Homo sapiens: one gene and its partners. The protein of the gene in region 2 purifies or fractionates together with the protein of the main gene of each other region. This does not show direct contact. Each region holds a gene or a part of one and is shown on either strand. Other genes may lie near its edges.

Region 1 (3,388 bases), 2.1 Mb from region 2:
TCTCTGGAAAACAGATCAGTGATCAATTGGTGATGTCTGCAGGGGATGTAGTAGGGGTGTGGCTGTGCATGTGCTGTGTAAGAACTTTCTCCTTATAGGCCAGCTGCACCCCTGGAAGCACTGTATAGTGATTTCTACTGCCATTTCTGCATTGGTGGGAATGAGAATAGTGATGAAGCAGAAATGTCTGCCACAGTTCCAGGAGAGGGAGGTAGCAGTGCGTGTGTTATGTGCTACTGACCCTGAAAAATGTGCCATAGCCCAAGCCAATTGAAATTGATCAGGGGGCCAGGCATGGTGGCTCATGCTTGTAATCCCAGCACCTTGGGAAGCTGAGGTGGGAGGATTGCTTGAAACCAGGAGTTCAAGACCAGCCTGTGCAACATAGCAAAACCCCATCTCTACAAAGATTAAAAATAAAAAATTAGCTGGGTGTGGTTGTGCATGCCTGTCACCCCAGCTACTTAGGGGGCTGAGGTGGGAGGACCGCTCGAGCCCAGGAGTTTGAAGCTGCAGTGAGCTATGATTGCGTCACTGCACTCCAGCCTGGGTGACAGAGCAAAACTCTGTCTCTAAGAAAAAGAAAGGGCCAGGCATGGTGGCTCATGCATTTAATCCCAGCATTTTGGGAGGCCGAGGTGGGCAGATCACTTGAAGTCAGGAGTTCAAGACCAGCCTGGTCAACATGGTGAAACCTCATCTCTACTAAATATACAAAAATTAGCTGGGTGTGGTGGCACATGCCTATAGTCCCAGCTACTTGAGAGGCTGCAGCAGGAGAAATCGCTTGAACCTAGGAGGCAGTGGTTGCAGTGAGCCAAGATTGTGCCACTGCACTCCAGCCTGGGTGACAGAGTGAGACTCTGTCTCAAAAAATAATATTAATTTTAAAAATTAAAGATAAAAATAATAAAAATTTTTTTAAAAAGAAAGAAATTGATCAGTAGCTGCAGCCCAGAAGCCCTGAGTCTGAGAAGAGATGTGTGATGTCCCTTGTGGGCTCACTGGGATAGCATGCCATGAGAAATTCAAGATGTTTGCTGTGGGCTTGGGGATGGCGACATCCACAGATGTACTGCCTGTTTGCAGACTTCAAAATAAGCTCACACATCACCACCTTGTGTTATTTGCTACCCAGCACCCTGCATGGGGCTGTGTGGGAAAGAACATGGAGAGATTGATTGGTAATGTCTGTCAAGGGCAGGACAGGGGATGTGTAGGCGAGTGTGCTATGTGCAGCTGACTCTGAAATAGGTTTAGTCTCAAATGCAACTCCCCCAGAGAATCAGGCTTTTGAGGGGCCAGAGAATGGGCAGACAGAGTGGGGACAAGCAAAGCAGGGTTGCAGACATGGACCCAGCCCCTCATTTCCCACAGGATGTGGGCTACCAGTACGGGAAGGCGGTGTTTGGAGGCTGGAGCCGTGGCAACGTCATTGAGAAAATGCTCACAGACCGGCGGTCTACAGACCTTAATGAGAGCCGCCGTGCAGACGTAAGCCTGTGATGCCCCCAGGGCCACTCTGACTCCACTGATTACAGAACCCAAGCCCCCTTAAAGTCTCCCCGAAACCTCAGATGACCCCACATGTCCCTGGGTTTTGCTGAGCTCTCAGACCTCTGCTGACTTCAGAGAGTTCCCACCCTAGGATCTCCTCTGAGCCCCCAATGCACCACTGGGCCCCCCAGGGGCCCCAAGACTCTGTGGGCCCCCCCTAAGAGCCTCACCAGTGTCACCCCACAGGTGCTTGCCTTCCCAAGCTCTGGCTTCACTGACTTGGCAGAGATTGTGTCCCGGATTGAGCCCCCCACGAGCTATGTCTCTGATGGCTGTGCTGACGGTGAGGGGCCCAGGGGACCCCCCAAGAGGGAGGGGAGTGGCTGGAGATGGCAGGCCAGCCCCAATCCCCTCACCTGTGCCCTGCTCCCCGATTCCAGGAGAGGAGTCAGATTGTCTGACAGAGTATGAGGAGGACGCCGGACCCGACTGCTCGAGGGATGAAGGGGGGTCCCCCGAGGGCGCAAGCCCCAGCACTGCCTCCGAGATGGTGAGAGTGGGTGGCCCAGGGTCCCCTCACATCCCCCAGAGGGTCATGAGTACAGTGTCAGGCAGGGGAGCCGGGGGCGTATTTGAGATCCTGTGTGTGCTGGGTGCTGGCTGACATGTGACGCATCAGTGTCCCGTGCTGGGTGACGTGTGTGTGACCTTCCCTCGCAGGAGGAGGAGAAGTCGATTCTCCGGCAACGACGCTGTCTGCCCCAGGAGCCGCCCGGCTCAGCCACAGATGCCTGAGGACCTCGACAGGGGTCACCCCCTCCCTCCCACCCCTGGACTGGGCTGGGGGTGGCCCCGTGGGGGTAGCTCACTCCCCCTCCTGCTGCTATGCCTGTGACCCCCGCGGCCCACACACTGGACTGACCTGCCCTGAGCGGGGATGCAGTGTTGCACTGATGACTTGACCAGCCCCTCCCCCAATAAACTCGCCTCTTGGAAATGGCTTCCTGTCGTTTTCGGACTGGGGACCCACCTTCTGTGCTCAGGATGGCTGGGGCTGGGGTCTGACACCACCTGGTGCTTGCCCCCCACAGGGAATGCCTTTCTAGAATCCACACGGAGCCCCACTAGGTGCTTGTCCCCACTCTGCCCCTTCTCTGGCTCCTCAGAAGCCAGTGCTGACTCCGGACCACAGGGCCAGACATTCCGTGCCACCCTCCCGGGCTCACAGGTGCTCTTGGGGGCCCGATATGGCACCCCTCAATTTCTTTCTGTGTGTTTTTTGTTTTTTGTGTTTTTTTTTTTGAGATGGAGTCTCACTCTGTCACCCAGGCTGGAGGCTGGAGTGCAGTGGCATGATCTCTGCTCACTGCGACCTCCATCTCCCGGGTTCAAGCGATTCTCCTGCCTCAGCCTCCTGAGTAGCTGGGATTACAGGCGCCCGCCACCACACCCAGCTAAATTTTGTGGGGGGGTTTTTTGGTTTTGTTTTGTTTTTTGTTTTAATTTTTGAGACAGTGTCTCTCTCTGTCACCTAGGCTGGAGTGCAGTGATGCGATCTCAGCTTATTGCAGCCTCCAGCTCTTGGATTCAAGTGATTCTCATGCCTCAGCCTTCCAAGTAGCTGGGGCCACAGGCGAGCACCACCATGCCTGGCTAATTTTTGTATTTTTTGTAGAGAAGGGGTTTCACCATGTTGGCCAGTCTGGTCTCAAACTCCTGGCCTCAAGCCATCCACCTGCCTCAGCCTTCCAAAGTGCTGGGAATACAGGCATGTGCCACCACACCTGGCCTTAATTTTTGTATTTTTAGTAGAGACGGCATTTCATCACGTTGCCCAGGCTGGTCTCAAACTCCTGACCTGAAGTGATCTGCCCGCCTTGGCCTCCCAAAG
Region 2 (7,595 bases):
AGGGTGCAGCCTCAGGGAATGCTTGCTGAATGGCAGAATAGACAAATCAGTGACAACACAAGCAAATGCCTTTTCCTGGTAATTAAGTTCACTTGGTAATTAAGTCCTCAAACATCCCAGCCCTCCCTCATCTTAGCCCTAAGGACTTATTTTGCAATTCTCCAAAATGCTCAGAATCAACTGCACCGCCCGTCCCTTCACACGGACTGTGAACCAGGCATCGCCTGGTGTGCTCTTTCCCCCAACTTCCACTTTTCTTGCCAAGTTCCTACTTGTCCTTCAAGTCCACTTGAAATCTCCCCTCCTCCAGGAAGCCTGCCCTGAACCCCATTATCTGGGCTCCCTCAGCCCTGGCTGTCTGGGTCCATCTCTTACCCAAGCCTGGGGCTCCTTGAGGGCTGGGCAGGGGCTGGAGAACTCTTGGAGTCCGCTGTGTTTCCCAGCGCAGATGTGGGCACCCAGTGGGGAACCCTAAATACTCAGTGAGTGCATTCATGGGGCCAGGGTTCAAATCCCAGCTCAGTCACTTTGCGGCTTTGTAGTCCTAGTGAGTCTGGTCCCCTGTCACAGACTCAGTTTCCCCCCTCTAGAAGATGGGGTGTCCACAGGAACCTGGCCCTGGATGCAGGGGGTCAGCGGAGTTTCCCGCAAGGCACGGTCACAGGCTGCAGGCTGCATTGCTCAGTGGCAGTGCTGGTGGCTCCTGCCATCCCCGAGTGCCCCCCTCCTCTGGGGCTCAGTTTCCCCATTTGGCCACACTCCCCCTTAGACAAACACAGACGGGGCGCCACCTGGCTGGGCAGGAGGGGGCCTCGGCAGCTTCTCACGAAGAACAGCAGCCAAGGTGGGGGCTGGCGGGGCTGGCACAGGCCGGCCTCGTTAAGCTGCCAGTCCTTGGCACCACTCTGCTTTCGTGGAGGCGTCTGGAGAAGGGCCCAGGCCTGGCTGTTGGGGGACTGAGGAAGCTGGGATGAAGCTGAGACCCTTTTTCAGAGGGGGCAGGCCCTGAGTGATGGCAAGGAGTTCTATGTTCACTTATTAAGCATCTACTGGATGCCAGACCAGGCTACTCAGGCAGGGCGTTTGCCCGTGCTGTTCTAGCTGCCAGGATCGCGTTTCCTGTTCATAGCACTATCCACTGCTCATTCTGATCTCAGTCTAGAAGACACCACCTCCAGGAAGCCTTCTAGATTCTCTAGAATAAGCCAGGTGCGGCCGGGCGCGGTGGCTCATGCCTGTAATCCCAGCACTTTGGGAGGCCGATGCGGGCGGATCACGAGGTCAGGAGATCGAGACCATCCTGGCTAATGCAGTGAAACCCCGTCTCTACTAAAAATACAAAAAATTAGCCGGGCATGGTGGTGGGCGCCTGTAGTCCCAGCTACTCGGGAGGCTGAGGCAGGAGAATGCCGTGAACCTGGGAGGCAGAGCTTGCAGGGAGCTGAGATGGTGCCACTGCACTCCAGCCTGGGCGACACAGCGAGACTCCGTCTCAAAAAAAAAAAAAAAAAAAAGAATAAGCCAGGTGCCTCCCTTTGGGTTGGCACGGTGCCTGAGTTTTCCCCATCACAGTTTGATCACTCAATATTTTATTTTTAGAGGTGGGGTCTTGCTCTGTGGCCCGCTGCTGGAGTGCCACAGCATGATCAGAGCTCACTGCAGCCTCAAACTCCCAGGCTCAAGCGATGTTCCCGCTTCAGCCTCCCGAGTAGCTGTGATCACCCAATATTATAACTGGGCTGTGGGCAGGTCACTTAGGCCATCAACAAATGCAAACAGAGCACTTCGTACGTGGTAGGCACTATGCTTAGCACCGTCCATGCTCAGCGAACCCCGCAGTGCAGGTGCTGATGCTGCCTCCTCTTTACAGAAGGGGCAACTGAGGCTCACAGTGGCTGAATGGTGGAGTGAAGCCACATGGCCTGGAGTCTGGTGCACAGAAGGGCCCGGGAAAAGCTCATTTCCATCCCCAGGGACAGTGAGCTCACTCACCACTGAAGGAGGCCTAAGCTGGAGGTGTGGGGATTCATTCATTCAACAAATATGTATTGGGCAGCCATTGAAGGCCAGGTTACTCAAGTGTGTCCGAGTGACAGGTGGTGTTGGACGCCTCCAACATCTGTTGTCTTGTCCTCCATAGTAATAGAAGCCCTGGTTTTCAGCTGCACAGTTGGCCATTCAGAATAAATACTACATTTCCCAGCAAGCTTTCTGCCAGGCATGGCCACGTGACTAATTCTGGCCAATGCAGTGTGAGCAGAAGTGGTGCCTGGGATTTCCAAGAAGTGTCCTTAAAGGGACAGGGTGAGCTCTTCCTCACTCTTTCCTCCTCATTGCCTGGGAGGCAGATGTGATGGCTGGAGCTCACGCACCTGCCTTGTCCCACGAGGAGGAGGCCATTTACTGAGGATATGGTGGATGGAAGGAGTCTGGGCTGCAGACACCCCAGCATCTCCATGCCATCCCAGGAATGACTACTCACATTCCACATTCAGAAGCAAATCAGCCCTGTACGCCTACACCGCTGTGGTTGGGTCTTGCTTACCACAGCCAACCCGAGCCTGACCGCTACATTTGTCCCTCTCTGCTTCTGTTTTTCCACTCTTGCCTCCTCTCATGCCTGCTGGACTGAAAAACCTGCCTCTGCTTGGTAGCACTGGGCTGCAAGGGCCATCCACAGTGGCCAAGGCAGTGGCCTCTAGATAGTGTGGCCTCCGTCTGTGGCAGTAGACAGAGCAGGGGCAGGAGTGCCACCAGGGGCCGGGCATGGTGGCTCACAAATGTAACCCCAGCACTTTGGGAGGCTGAGACTGGCAGATCACTTGAGGTCAGGAGTTCGAGACAAGCCTGGGCAACCTAGCAAAACCCCCGTTTCTATTAAGATACAAAAATTAGCCGGGCATGGCAGCATGTGCTCGTGGCCTCAACTGATCTGCCCGCCTCGGGCTCCTAAAGTGCTAGGATTACGGACATGAGCCACCATGCCCGGCCTTTTCTCCCTTTCTTAGAAGGAAAACCTCTGCAAAGATCTTATTTCCAAATAAGGTCCATTCACAGGGGTTGGTCAGAACCAGGGGTTAGGGGTTCAACATCTCTATTTGGGGCCCACCCACTACATGGTACAAGAGATTTGTGTGGGAGGTGATCTCAGAAGCTGTGGGAGGGGAGAGAAGTGGGTGGGGAAGGGAAGGAGACAGTAGCGGGCTCATTGACAAGACAGTACTGGGTTCGTTGACTTATGGAGCTCATTCGACTGGGGACCTCTAGGAGATATGGTAGAACATACTTCGATTTGTCCCATAAGAGGGACGAGGGAGTGGGGGCATTTATCTACCACCTCCCATCTGTCACTGGCTGAGGGCTGCTCTGAGAGGTATTAGGCCAACACAGAAAATCTAAAGACTAAGTAGTCAGCCTGGCAAAGTGAAGTTGAGGAGCAAGAATTCTGTTCCAGGCAGAGGGAACAGCATTTGCAAAATTCTAGAGGTGAACAAAGCAAGATGCCTCTGGGACATTGCAAATCATCCAGGCTTCAGAGATTGGCAGGCGCCCAACCACAGGGGTGCATGTAGGCCACAGAGAAGAGTGTGGGCTTTATCTGGAGGGCAATGGGGAGCCATGGGAGAGTTTAGAGCATGGGAAAGACTATGTTACAGGTCTGGAAGCTGAGGCCCAGAGAGGCTAAGGAATTTAGCTGATGTCATACAGCTTATGAATGGCAGAGACAGAAATCCGACTTGAGTGGGCTGCAGACAGATTGAGGGTGTGAAATTTGGGGGATGGGGACTGGGGAGGAGGTGAGGCTGATGCCCAGGGCTGAAGCTCAGGCAGGGGGCACAGTTGGAGACCCAGCTGGAGAGGCAATGCTATAGGGAGAGAGAATGAAGCTGGTGCAAGCCTGGAGGCCAACCTGGCGGTGCGGACTTGGGACCACTGACCCCCACCAGCCCCACCCTGACCCTGGCACTTGACTCTCCCTCCAAATCAAGTCCAGGAGGGCTCTGAGGATATATGGACTCAGACCTGAGTCCGGATAAAAGAGCCAGCTACGGAGAGAAAGGGCTTTCCAGGCAGGAGGCCCAGCCCATGCAAAGGCCCTGGGGCAGGATCCTGCCTGGTGTGTTGGAGGAACAGCAAGGAGATCTGTGTGGCTGGAGCAGAGTGAGGGATGGTGACAGGGGGTCAGGAATTTGGGTTTTAAGCACTGATCTCATTGTAGGGGGGCGTGGCTTGAACAAGTCTGGGTCACTCTTGGAGTCTCAGACAAGGGTAACATTGAACCTTCTACAGTGTGTTGCTAGGAACCTCCAGAAGCTGATGCTGGTAGCGTCTTCGCACAGTGAGGGCTGAATCTGCACTGCTGGGGGCCGGCAGCCCTTTTGAAGCATCCCTGGGCCTCCTTGGGTCCAAAGATACCCTGAGCCTTCAAGAAGTTATCTCAAAGCTTGCCCGGGTACCGGCAAATCACAGACCTAGGAATGATCCATTGGCCACAGGCCCAGGCAGCTGGCAGCTCCTGGGACAGAATGTAGCAGGGCGATGTCACAGAAGCTGGGGGCATCTAGAACCCTGGTGACTCCTGGTCTCCATGTCATCTGCCAGAAAGGCCACCTGCGCCAGCACCTCCTGAGACCGGCCTTCAAAGACACGACGCATGCCGCTCTGCCGTCCGGAGCACTTAATGCCTAGAGCCAGCAGGGTCCCAGTGGCCGCGTCACTGCCTCTGAGCCACGCGGTCATTCCAACTCAACTGCCCTCGCGTCCTGGCCACAGGCCCCCTGGGAGACCCCGGAGATGCCCAAAGGCCTCATGCCTGCCGCCTCCAGTGGGACCTAGCAGCACACAGACAGCGAAGCGGGTGACCATGGGGTGGCCACGGCCGGGCCGAGCCCTCGTGGCAGTCAAAGCCTTGCTGGTCTTGTCGCTGCTCCAGGTGCCCGCGCAGGCAGTGGTACGGGCCGTGCTGGAAGACAACTCGAGCTCGGTGGACTTTGCGGATCTGCCGGCGCTGTTCGGCGTCCCCCTGGCCCCCGAGGGCATACGGGGCTACCTGATGGAGGTCAAGCCAGCCAACGCGTGCCATCCCATCGAGGCCCCGCGACTGGGCAACCGCTCTCTGGGCGCCATCGTGCTGATCCGCCGCTACGACTGCACCTTCGACCTCAAGGTGCTGAACGCCCAGCGCGCCGGCTTCGAGGCGGCCATCGTGCACAACGTCCACTCCGACGACCTCGTGAGCATGACCCACGTCTACGAGGACTTGAGGGGCCAGATCGCCATCCCCTCAGTGTTCGTGAGCGAGGCCGCCTCGCAGGACCTGCGGGTCATCCTGGGCTGCAACAAGTCGGCCCACGCGCTGCTCCTGCCCGACGACCCACCGTGCCACGACCTGGGCTGTCACCCCGTGCTGACCGTGTCCTGGGTGCTGGGCTGTACCCTGGCCCTGGTCGTATCAGCCTTCTTTGTCCTGAACCACCTGTGGCTCTGGGCCCAGGCCTGCTGCAGCCACAGACGGCCGGTGAAGACGTCTACCTGCCAGAAGGCCCAGGTCCGCACCTTCACGTGGCACAACGACCTGTGTGCCATCTGCCTGGATGAGTATGAGGAGGGCGACCAACTCAAGATCCTGCCCTGCTCCCACACCTACCACTGCAAATGCATTGACCCCTGGTTCTCCCAAGCCCCCCGGCGCTCCTGCCCCGTGTGCAAACAGTCGGTGGCCGCCACAGAAGACAGCTTTGACTCCACCACCTACAGCTTCAGGGACGAGGACCCCTCCCTACCGGGCCACCGGCCCCCCATCTGGGCCATTCAAGTCCAGCTACGCTCCCGGAGGCTGGAGCTGCTGGGCCGCGCCAGTCCCCACTGCCACTGCAGCACCACGTCCCTGGAGGCAGAGTATACCACTGTCTCCTCAGCCCCTCCTGAGGCCCCTGGTCAGTAAAGATCTAGGGCAGGGAGGGGGGTGCAATGAGGAATGTTTCTGGTCTGAAAAGAATAAAGTGGGTTTGAAAGCGGATTCTCAGCCTCGCTGCTGTTGGGCCACCCGCCTCTGACTGGGGTTGGGGGACACCCATCCCCATCAAGCCTAAGGCCAATCCCCGTTTCTGCGGGCGGGAGAGCGAGGGGTGGTGAGGGCTGGGGGGCCTTTTTGGGGCGGCTGTGACCGTGGTGCCGGAGTGGCTTTGAGACGGGTCGTCTGTGCTTTGGTTCCAGTCCCGGGCACACGGGTCACTCATCCTGGATGGCCTTATTCTTCATTCACATTTTTTCTTTTAAAATAAACGTTTTATTTTGGAACTGGTTTAGATTTCCAGAAAAGTTGCAAAGGTGCCATAGAGTTCTCCAACCCCTTTTACTCCGTTTCCTCTTATGTCTCATGGGATCCCAGGTGTGATGGGATGGGAGGCCGAGGTGGGAGGTTCGCTCAAGGTTAGAGGTTTGAGACCAGCCTGGGCAACATAACAAGACCCCACCTCTACAAAAAAATTTTCTTAGGCCGGGCGTAGTGGCTTACGCCTGTAATCCCAGCACTTTAAGAAGCCAAGGCGGGCGGATCATGAGGTCAGGAGATCAAGACCATCCTGGCCAACATGGTGAAACCCTGTCTCTACTAAAAACTACAAAAATGAGCTGGGCGTGGTGGTGCGTGCCTGTAGTCCCAGCTGCTCGCTACTCAGGAGGCTGAGGCAGGAGAATTGCTTGAACCCAGGAGGTGGAGGTTGCAGTGAGTTGAGATCACGCCACTGCACTCCAGCCTAGCGACAGTGAGGCTCCGTCTCAAAAAAGAAAAAAAAATTCATTAGCCAAGTGTGGTGATACATGCCTGTAGTTCCAGCTACTTGGGAGGCTGAGGTGGGAGGATTGCTGGAGCCTGGGAGGTGAGCTATGATCACACCACTGCACTTCAGCTCGGGCAACAGAGTGAGACCCTGTCTCAAAAAAAAAAAAAAAAAATGCAAGGAGGCAAGGGAGTTTTCTGGGCAGTGAGGGGGCTGTTTGACCATGCTCCGACGAGAAATAGCTACTAGGTGAGGTCATAGGAGCAAAAGGGTCAAGGTCGCCTCTGAGACATTCCCTGGAACAGTGTGAATGTGAGAGTCACGTGCAAGATTCCGACTGAAGCCCAAGCAACCTCCAGAGAGCGCCCACTCTGTGCCAGACGCGGTTCCAGGCACACAGACACAGCAGTGAACAAAACAGGGGAAAGTCCCTGCTCTCCAGGGACTGCTATTCCAGGGTGGGGGATAGATACAAAGTATATAATTAAATAAATGAGCAGGGAGATGTCAGCACGAGATAAATCCTGGGGCTAAAACACAAGGGGGTCATGAGATGGAGAGAGCTTGGCGGATGATCAGGGAGATCACGGAGGAAACATGAGAACCGAGACTCAGGGCCGGGCACAGTGGCTCACGCCTGCACTCCCAGCACTTCGGGAGTCTGAGGTTAGCAAATCGCTTGAGTCTAGGAGTTCGAGACCAGCCTGGGCAACATAGTGAAACTCCATCTCTCCAAAAAAATACAAAAATTAGCGGGGTATGGTGGTGCACACCTATAGTCCCAGCTACTCAGGAGGCTGAGACGGGAGGATC
Region 3 (8,353 bases), on a different chromosome or scaffold from region 2:
AAATACAAAAACTAGCTAGGTGTGGTGGCGTGTGCCTGTAATCCCAGCTACTTGCGGGGCTGAGGTAGGAGGACTGCTTGAATCCAGGAGGTTGAAGCTGCAGTGAGCCAAGATCGCCCCACTGCACTCCAGCCTGGGTAACAGAGTGAGACCCTGTCTCAAAAACAAAACACCTAGCTTGGTAAATGATTAATACAATTTAGGAAAAGTACGTAATGTAGAGAAATAAAATCTAGTTACACTAAAATTACTCTTTCAGTTTTTCCAAAACAATGCATAAATAATTCAGGCAAAACTTGGCTTGTTGTCTATATCCCCCACACCCCAAATATCCTTTACCCTTTTTTTCTCCTGTAGATATTGATGCCATGCAAATTCTTGAAGAGGAACTAATATAGGATCTTCAAATTTGGATGGATGATTATTCTTCAGATTCTGGATTTCGAAATAGAATAATTATTTTAGAGTTAGTTCTCTTTTAAAGTCAAAATCATGTTCCCCAATTTTTACGGGGTTTCCAGAAGTTTTATACAACACAAGCCCAGGCCATGCAGTCCGACTGAGATATTCCTTGCTCGCTGTCAGAGGCCCTTGTGTTCACCTCCAAGTTGCTCCCCAGTCCAGGGAGCTTATTTGTATAAGTGCCTCGAAGCCAAGAACTATGTCTTAGAGGCTGGGCGCAGTGGCTCACACCTGTAATCTCAGCACTTTGGGAGGCTGAGGTGGGCAGATCACCTGAGGTCAGGAGATTGAGACCAGCCTGGCCAACATGGCAAAAACGTGTCTCTACTAAAAATACAAAAAAATTAGCCAGGCATGGTGGGTGTGTGCCTGTAATCCCAGCTACTTGGGAGGCTGAGGCAAGAGAATCACTTGAACCTGGGAGGCAGAGGTTGCAGTGAGCAGAGATCACGCCACTGCACTCCAGCCTGGGTGACAGAGTGGGACTCTATTTCAAAAAACAAAAAACAAAAAAACAAAACAAAACAAAAAAAACTCTGTCTTAGTATTCCTATATTCCCACCTGCCACAATCTCTGGCACACAGCAGCTGAATAAAGAGAGGAATACATAAATGGGTTAACGCCAATAGCTTTGTGATATGCTATGTTCTTTAAGACTAGTTTTTCCCTAAGTACAACTCTTGCTAAACCTCGGTGGATCTACAGATACTTTACTTATAACTAAAATAAATAAATAAATGTTCTTGCTTTAATTCACTGATGAATGGGGGATGACCAAAAAGATAATAACGTTGTGGTTATACCCCTTAGGAAAAAGAGAAGTACGAAATCAGTTTAGGTTTAGATACGGAATATGTTCTAGTTTGACATAGATTGTCTGCAGGAATCAGAGAAAATTCTTATTGGTTAGCAATCCAGGCTTGGTTCTTGATATTCGTTATACTTTGTCTCCCTCTAAAGCAAGAGAACACAGGTGAAGCAGTAACAGGCCTCTTTTCTGAGTGGGTTTGGGAAGTAGATGGACCAAAGGGAAAAGTGACAGCTGCTGCAGGTGGCACTTCCCTGCTAGGGACAGTGCTTGGAGGTCCTGTCATGGTCCAAAAGAGGGTGCTGGCCTAGCACAGGTCATCAGGGGTGAGTATTCCAAGGGGAGAAAACCAGGATGTGAGTGTGGCCTACTTTGGGAATACTCATGAAGAGGGCAACAATAATTAGGCCATTTCCTTCTGTCCCCAAGCAATAGCTGACGCATCTTGTTTCTCAGTTCCAGTGTCTGTGCTCAGTTTGAGGCAATACTGCAGGTTGACTACTATTTCTTTTCTTTTTTTTTTTTTTTTTTTTTTTTGAGACGGAGTCTCGCTCTGTTGCCCAGGATGGAGTGCAGCGGTGTGACCTCAGCTCACTGCAACCTCCGTCTCCTGGGTTCAAGCAATTCTCCTACCTCAGCCTCCCAAGTAGCTGGGATTACAGGCACCCGCCACCACGCCCAGCTAATTTTTGCATTTTTAGCAGAGACGAGGTTTCACCATGTTGGCCAGGCTGGTCTTGGCCAGGCTGGTCTTGAACTCCTGACCTTAGGCGATCTGCCTGCCTCAGCCTCCCGAAGTGCTGGGATTACAGGCGTGAGCCACCGCACCTGGCCCGGTTGACTGCTATTTCTAACCATCTGGAATAAACTATAAATCCAGCAGTTTTCAAATGAAACACATGTCTTTTTAGTAATTTAGTATTTGTTGTAGAACGGACTATATCCAAATGAAAATGTATGCAATATTTGTTCCTATTCTCTACAAATTTCAATCTTTTGTGTGTTTGGTTTTTACATTTTGTTTTTTATTTTTCAATTGACATATAATAATTGCACATATTTATGGGGTAGTGATGTCTCAATACATATAATGTATACTTATCATTAGCATATCCATCATCTCAAACATTTATTATTTCTTTGTGTTGGGAACATTCAACACAAATCTAAATCTTTGTCAGTTAATCAGGCATCTGGGATCGCTCACAAATTATCATGTTAGGAATACATTCAGATATCCTTTATTAAGACAGAACTAGAGGCTGGGCATCACCGTGGCCCATGCCTATAATCCCAGCACTTCGGGAGGTCGAGGAGGATTGCTTGAGCCCAGGAGTTCAAGACCAGCCTAGGCAACACAGTGAGACCCCCATCTCTTCCAAAAAAAGAAAAAAAAAACTAGCTGAATTTTCATATTTGAATATAACTACAGTAGGTAAAAGTTTAAGAAAGGGAAAATTGACATTATTAATACAATAAAGATATTGTTTTCTCGACCTACTGTCTTCTACATCAGGGGTTGGAGAGGAATAATTTTTAGATTTGTAAACAGTTTTTTGTTTTTTTTTTTAAGACAGAGTCTCACTCTTGTTGCCCAGGCTGGAGCACAGTGGCACGATCTCAGCTCACCGAAACCTCCACCTCCCGGGTTCAAGCGATTCTCCAGCCTCAGCTTCCCGAGTAGCTGGGATTACAGGCGCCCGCCACCATGCCTGGATAATTTTTGTATTTTTAGTAGAGATGGGGTTTCACCATGTTGGCCAGGCTGGTCTTGAACTCCCGATTTCGTGATCTGCCCGCCTCAGCCTCCCAAAGTGCTGGGATTATAGGCAAGAGCCACCGCGCTCGGCCTGTAAACAATTCTAAAAAATCAAAAGAATTGTATTTCACGTTATGTGAAAATTATACGCAAGTCAAATTTCGTGTCCATAATATGGTTTTACTGGAATACTGTCATTCATTTCCATCTCTGTGTCTGCTTTTGCAACACAGGAAAAAGCTAAACAGGTGTGACTGAGACCCTATTGCCAAGAAGGCCTAACATATTTACTATCTGGACTTTACAGAAAAAAACTTGTCAACACTTTCTTTACAATGTGGAGTCGGCACAGAAAATATGTGCCTTCAGAAAAAGAGCGAAAAAAAAGAGAAAAAAAATCTCTGAAACTCATTAATACATTAACTTTGTAATTAACTTCATGGCCATTAACTTTGGTAATAAAAGGTTGCTGATCCCGTCTGCCCAAGCAACACAGACCACAATTTCTACTTTTGATGATTCATGTATTATTTTCACAGACTTCTGATCACTTGTTTTCTTTTTATTATTTATTTATTTTGAGACGGGGTCTGGCTCTGTCGCCCAGGCTGGAGGGCAATGGCGCGATCTCAGCTCTCTGCAAACTCCGCCTCCCGGGTTCAAGCGATTCTTGTGCCTCAGCCTCCTGAGTAGCTGGGATTACAGAGACCGCCACCACGCCCGGCTAATTTTTTGTATTTTTAGTAGAAACGGGGTTTCACCATGTTGGCCAGGCTGGTCTAGAACTCCGCCTCTGCCTCCCAAAGTGCTGAGATTATAGGCGTGAGTCACCGCGCCAAGATATCTTCTATTTGGGAACATTTTGTTGTCAAGTATCCAGCTGGGTACTTCGGGAGTTAAAAACATTAATTAAGGCATGGTCCTGGAGTCAAGTGAGCTTCGGCGAGAAGTTTGCCATGGACAGCATTTCTGGAGCAAACCCTGTAAGAAGGGCTGAATTCTACATGCCGACATTTCATACATTTCTCCTGCATTTCAGGTTGTAAGTGTGCTGCAGCATGACTGATCTGGCCAAATTCTTCCAGTTTCCTCAAGTGCTTTTCCTTTAGTATCGTTCTGAGTGTTTACAAAGAAATGATTTTCCAAAGCACTTGTGAAGCATCTAGTTCGATTGGAACGCAGTGACGGCTCTATAAAATTCAAAGAAAAGAATCTCCCCGCATGAATAGTTAACAAAAATCGCTTGGGCCGAGGTGGCGGGGTTGTAAAAATTAGCTAGTTATATAGTAATCATTTTTCCATAAATTTAAATATCTCTAATTAAAGAAAAAATTGACGTAGAACAAAATCTGCGGGTGTGTGTGTGTGTGTCTCGGAGGGGATTACCTTATCTCCCAGCGCGGTTCTGAACCCTTCCTTCGCTCAGTTCTCCCTTTAAAAGTCGCCAAGTGGAACGCCCGCCCCCGGACCCGCACTTGCCCCCCTATACTCTCCTCCCGGTCCTCCAGACGGAGCCCGCCCGGCCAGGACACGCCAGCCCCTTCCTCGGCCGGTGGGGCCTCGACCCCCGCCGCCTCGAGGAGGCGCGGCGCCTGCAGTCCACGCGGCCGAGAGCGGGTAGCGGGGAGGGCCGCCCACGACGGAGGTTTCTCTGTGGTTACCTCAGCGGCGCTCTTCGCAATCTGAAAGTTGGGGCAGCTGAAGAGCCCCACCACCTTCACCTGCAGCGGCCGCTCCGGCAGCGACGGCGAGCCGCACCTAGCGTGCGGGGGCCCGCACGGCTGCGGCCTTGCCATGGCCGCGCCCGGGGACGCCCGGTGACCCCAAACACTGCGCGTCGCTCCGGCAACCGCGCGGCCCCGCCTCCGCCGCTCGCAGGAGGCGGGGCCCAGGGGCGGGTCGAGGGCGGCCCGTGGCGGCTGGGCCTTTCCTCAACTTTGCGCCTGTTGCTGGGCCGCCGGCGCGCGGGCGGCCGCGACCGCCGGGGACGAGCTTGGAGGAAAAGGAACCGGGAGCCGCCCACCCGGGGGCGCTCTCCGGACCCCCAGGGTCCTAGCGCGCGGCCCTTACCGAGCCTGGGCGCCCGGATTTCGGCAGCGGATCGCCTTTCCGGGTTGGCGGCCCGCCTGATTGGGAACAGCCGGCCGGTTGCCGGGGGAACGCGGGAGTCGGGCCCGACCTGAGCCACGCGGGCTTGGTGCCCACCTGTGCGCGCCGCCTGCGAAGAAGGAACGGTCTGGGGAGAAGGCGCCGCCGGCCGCCCCCGTCCCCACCGCGGCCGTCGCTGGAGAGTTCGAGCCGCCTAGCGCCCCTGGAGCTCCCCAACCATGAAGCCCAACTTCTCCCTGCGACTGCGGATCTTCAACCTCAACTGCTGGTGAGTGCGTCTGCGGAGTGCGGTCTGGGGGCCACCTTCCGTTCGCACCCATGCAGCCTTCCTCCCCCTATCCCGCCCCACGATCTCAGGGTGTAGGGAAAACCCGAACCTCCAAAGTCCACATCTGGCCCCAGCGCCGGTGGTCCCAGCAGTCGCCTCCCCTGCCCCGCTCTTCCCTTCCTTAGGGGCATTCCGTACTTGAGCAAGCACCGGGCCGACCGCATGAGGCGCCTGGGAGACTTTCTGAACCAGGAGAGCTTCGACCTGGCTTTGCTGGAGGAGGTGAGATTGTGCAGCACGGTGCGGAACCCAGGCTGGGAGGAGGGACAGACCGTCCCACTGGGGAAAGACCAAGCAGGCATCCTCACCGCTTCCCTCAGGTGTGGAGTGAGCAGGACTTCCAGTACCTGAGACAGAAGCTGTCACCTACCTACCCAGCTGCACACCACTTCCGGAGGTGAGAAGCCCACTGGCCTGAAGCCTGTTGTCATCCCAGGAGGCTCTTGGCCCTGCCAGCCCTTCCCTATCCTGCCTGCACTCTCCAGTCTCCTCCAGCCTCCTCTCCCTCTGGATGTGAGAGAAGGAGAAGGGTGAACCAAGAAGGTCCTATGACTTCAGCCCATTTCAGCTTTGTTTTCTGGCTGCCCTATACTCCTCCAAAGGCTGTCGCCTTGGTTCTAGGGCTAGTCCCAGCAGTAGAAAAAGAAAAAAATAGCTGATCAGAGCTGGAAGACAAGGGAGGGGAAGAAGGCTGGGTGTCTCTCCCTGTTTTTCTGGTTATTAAGCAGGGCTTGGCTTTCAGCGGAATCATTGGCAGTGGCCTCTGTGTCTTCTCCAAACATCCAATCCAGGAGCTTACCCAGCACATCTACACTCTCAATGGCTACCCCTACATGGTAAGGCAGACCTTTGACCTCTTCCACCTCCCTTCCCCACCTCCAGTAATACAAGGTAGAGGAGGCAGCCCTCTGAGAGCTGCAGGGGATGGGCAGAAAGATGGTGGCGGTGCCCTGAGTTTCTATCTCCTCCTGCCTGCAGATCCATCATGGTGACTGGTTCAGTGGGAAGGCTGTGGGGCTGCTGGTGCTCCATCTAAGTGGCATGGTGCTCAACGCCTATGTGACCCATGTGAGTGAAGCTGGCAGTGCCTAGGGCTGGGACATGCAGCCCAGTCCTGGGACAGAGAGATGGTACTTCTCTAGCTCTCATACCTGGGGATGAGGTGTGGGGGCAAGATCTTATAAGGAAGCAATGGGCAAGGCTTATCCATTGTATACCAAACACCATGCCAAGTGACAGACACAGGCTTGATTCAGACATACCCCTGGGACCCTCAGTCTTATCTGCTGTGATCTCATCTATCTTGCTCAGCTCCATGCCGAATACAATCGACAGAAGGACATCTACCTAGCACATCGTGTGGCCCAAGCTTGGGAATTGGCCCAGTTCATCCAGTGTGTGAGCCTGGGCTTGAAATGGGAAGTGGGATGGGACCCAGGGGCTGAGGGTGAACAAGGCCCCAGTCATGGGGAAGAGCTGGTGATGGAAGAACTCCCGCCTCACCAACCTGGTTCCCCCAGCCACACATCCAAGAAGGCAGACGTGGTTCTGTTGTGTGGAGACCTCAACATGCACCCAGAAGACCTGGGCTGCTGCCTGCTGAAGGAGTGGACAGGGCTTCATGATGCCTATCTTGAAACTCGGGACTTCAAGGTGAGGACTTGCCTGTTACTTCCCCACCTATATCCCCAGCTTCTCTCCCTCCTTCTCCCCCACATCCTAGCATGAGCCAATGATTCCCTTAGGGCTCTGAGGAAGGCAACACAATGGTACCCAAGAACTGCTACGTCAGCCAGCAGGAGCTGAAGCCATTTCCCTTTGGTGTCCGCATTGACTACGTGCTTTACAAGGTCAGGCTCCTCCCTTCAACATGCTTTCATATGCTGTGTCTCTTTGTCTACTAACCTGTGTAGATCCTTTGCTCAGCTAGTCTAGTCTTGGACCACTGATGGGTGGAAAGTGGGGTAGCCGGGAGCTGGTTCTCTGGGAAGAGGCCCTCATATATAAGCTTCTCTCTGGCCCTTACTTTTCCTAGGCAGTTTCTGGGTTTTACATCTCCTGTAAGAGTTTTGAAACCACTACAGGCTTTGACCCTCACAGGGGCACCCCCCTCTCTGATCATGAAGCCCTGATGGCTACTCTGTTTGTGAGGCACAGCCCCCCACAGCAGAACCCCAGCTCTACCCACGGTGAGTCACCCCCACCCTTTCCTTGGCCCTTGCCCCGCTTGAAGCAGCCCTTCCACTCTTGACTCTCTCCTGCCCCACTGCCCTGCTCTGTTGTAGGACCAGCAGAGAGGTCGCCGTTGATGTGTGTGCTAAAGGAGGCCTGGACGGAGCTGGGTCTGGGCATGGCTCAGGCTCGCTGGTGGGCCACCTTCGCTAGCTATGTGATTGGCCTGGGGCTGCTTCTCCTGGCACTGCTGTGTGTCCTGGCGGCTGGAGGAGGGGCCGGGGAAGCTGCCATACTGCTCTGGACCCCCAGTGTAGGGCTGGTGCTGTGGGCAGGTGCATTCTACCTCTTCCACGTACAGGAGGTCAATGGCTTATATAGGGCCCAGGCTGAGCTCCAGCATGTGCTAGGAAGGGCAAGGGAGGCCCAGGATCTGGGCCCAGAGCCTCAGCCAGCCCTACTCCTGGGGCAGCAGGAGGGGGACAGAACTAAAGAACAATAAAGCTTGGCCCTTTAGTGGCTCTGCCTTTTTCCTTGTAGAGGCGATGGGAGCCAGGGGTCAGTGTGACTGTCACACTACAGACCTTAAGGCTCCTACACATCTTCTCCTGTCCCCATACACGCCCCCACCTCCCACCTGTAGGCGGTGTGAACGCTGTTTGTGGCAGAAACATTTTAATTGTAAACAGCAAGGCTCTCTGCCAGGCAGCCCAG

What was found. The genes of interacting proteins can lie anywhere in the genome.
Region 1: the proteins of ZNRF4 (region 2) and PNPLA6 purify together in Homo sapiens (affinity purification with mass spectrometry; 3 studies listed by BioGRID and IntAct, with this or other methods). This does not show direct contact.
Region 3: the proteins of ZNRF4 (region 2) and SMPD2 purify together in Homo sapiens (affinity purification with mass spectrometry; 2 studies listed by BioGRID and IntAct, with this or other methods). This does not show direct contact.

What each region holds. Positions count from the first base shown.
Region 1 is NC_000019.10:7,559,271-7,562,658, forward strand, and holds the end of PNPLA6 (patatin-like phospholipase domain-containing protein 6), read left to right. Parts: intron 1-1,377; coding exon 1,378-1,494; intron 1,495-1,743; coding exon 1,744-1,840; intron 1,841-1,937; coding exon 1,938-2,047; intron 2,048-2,217; coding exon 2,218-2,292; 3' UTR 2,293-2,494; downstream 2,495-3,388. UniProt on the Homo sapiens protein: Phospholipase B that deacylates intracellular phosphatidylcholine (PtdCho), generating glycerophosphocholine (GroPtdCho). This deacylation occurs at both sn-2 and sn-1 positions of PtdCho.
Region 2 is NC_000019.10:5,450,838-5,458,432, forward strand, and holds ZNRF4 (E3 ubiquitin-protein ligase ZNRF4 precursor), read left to right. Parts: upstream 1-4,579; 5' UTR 4,580-4,654; coding exon 4,655-5,944; 3' UTR 5,945-6,019; downstream 6,020-7,595. UniProt on the Homo sapiens protein: E3 ubiquitin-protein ligase that acts as a negative regulator of NOD2 signaling by mediating ubiquitination and degradation of RIPK2. Also catalyzes ubiquitination and proteasomal degradation of CANX within the endoplasmic reticulum.
Region 3 is NC_000006.12:109,435,765-109,444,117, forward strand, and holds SMPD2 (sphingomyelin phosphodiesterase 2), read left to right. Parts: upstream 1-4,959; 5' UTR 4,960-5,357; coding exon 5,358-5,407; intron 5,408-5,592; coding exon 5,593-5,689; intron 5,690-5,787; coding exon 5,788-5,864; intron 5,865-6,195; exon of another isoform or gene 6,196-6,209; coding exon 6,210-6,303; intron 6,304-6,445; coding exon 6,446-6,535; intron 6,536-6,778; coding exon 6,779-6,861; intron 6,862-6,987; coding exon 6,988-7,120; intron 7,121-7,212; coding exon 7,213-7,317; intron 7,318-7,502; coding exon 7,503-7,656; intron 7,657-7,752; coding exon 7,753-8,141; 3' UTR 8,142-8,155; downstream 8,156-8,353. Other genes in the region: PPIL6 (probable inactive peptidyl-prolyl cis-trans isomerase-like 6), read right to left, coding at 340-435, 4,692-4,826. UniProt on the Homo sapiens protein: Catalyzes, at least in vitro, the hydrolysis of sphingomyelin to form ceramide and phosphocholine. Also hydrolyzes 1-O-alkyl-2-lyso-sn-glycero-3-phosphocholine (lyso-platelet-activating factor) in vivo.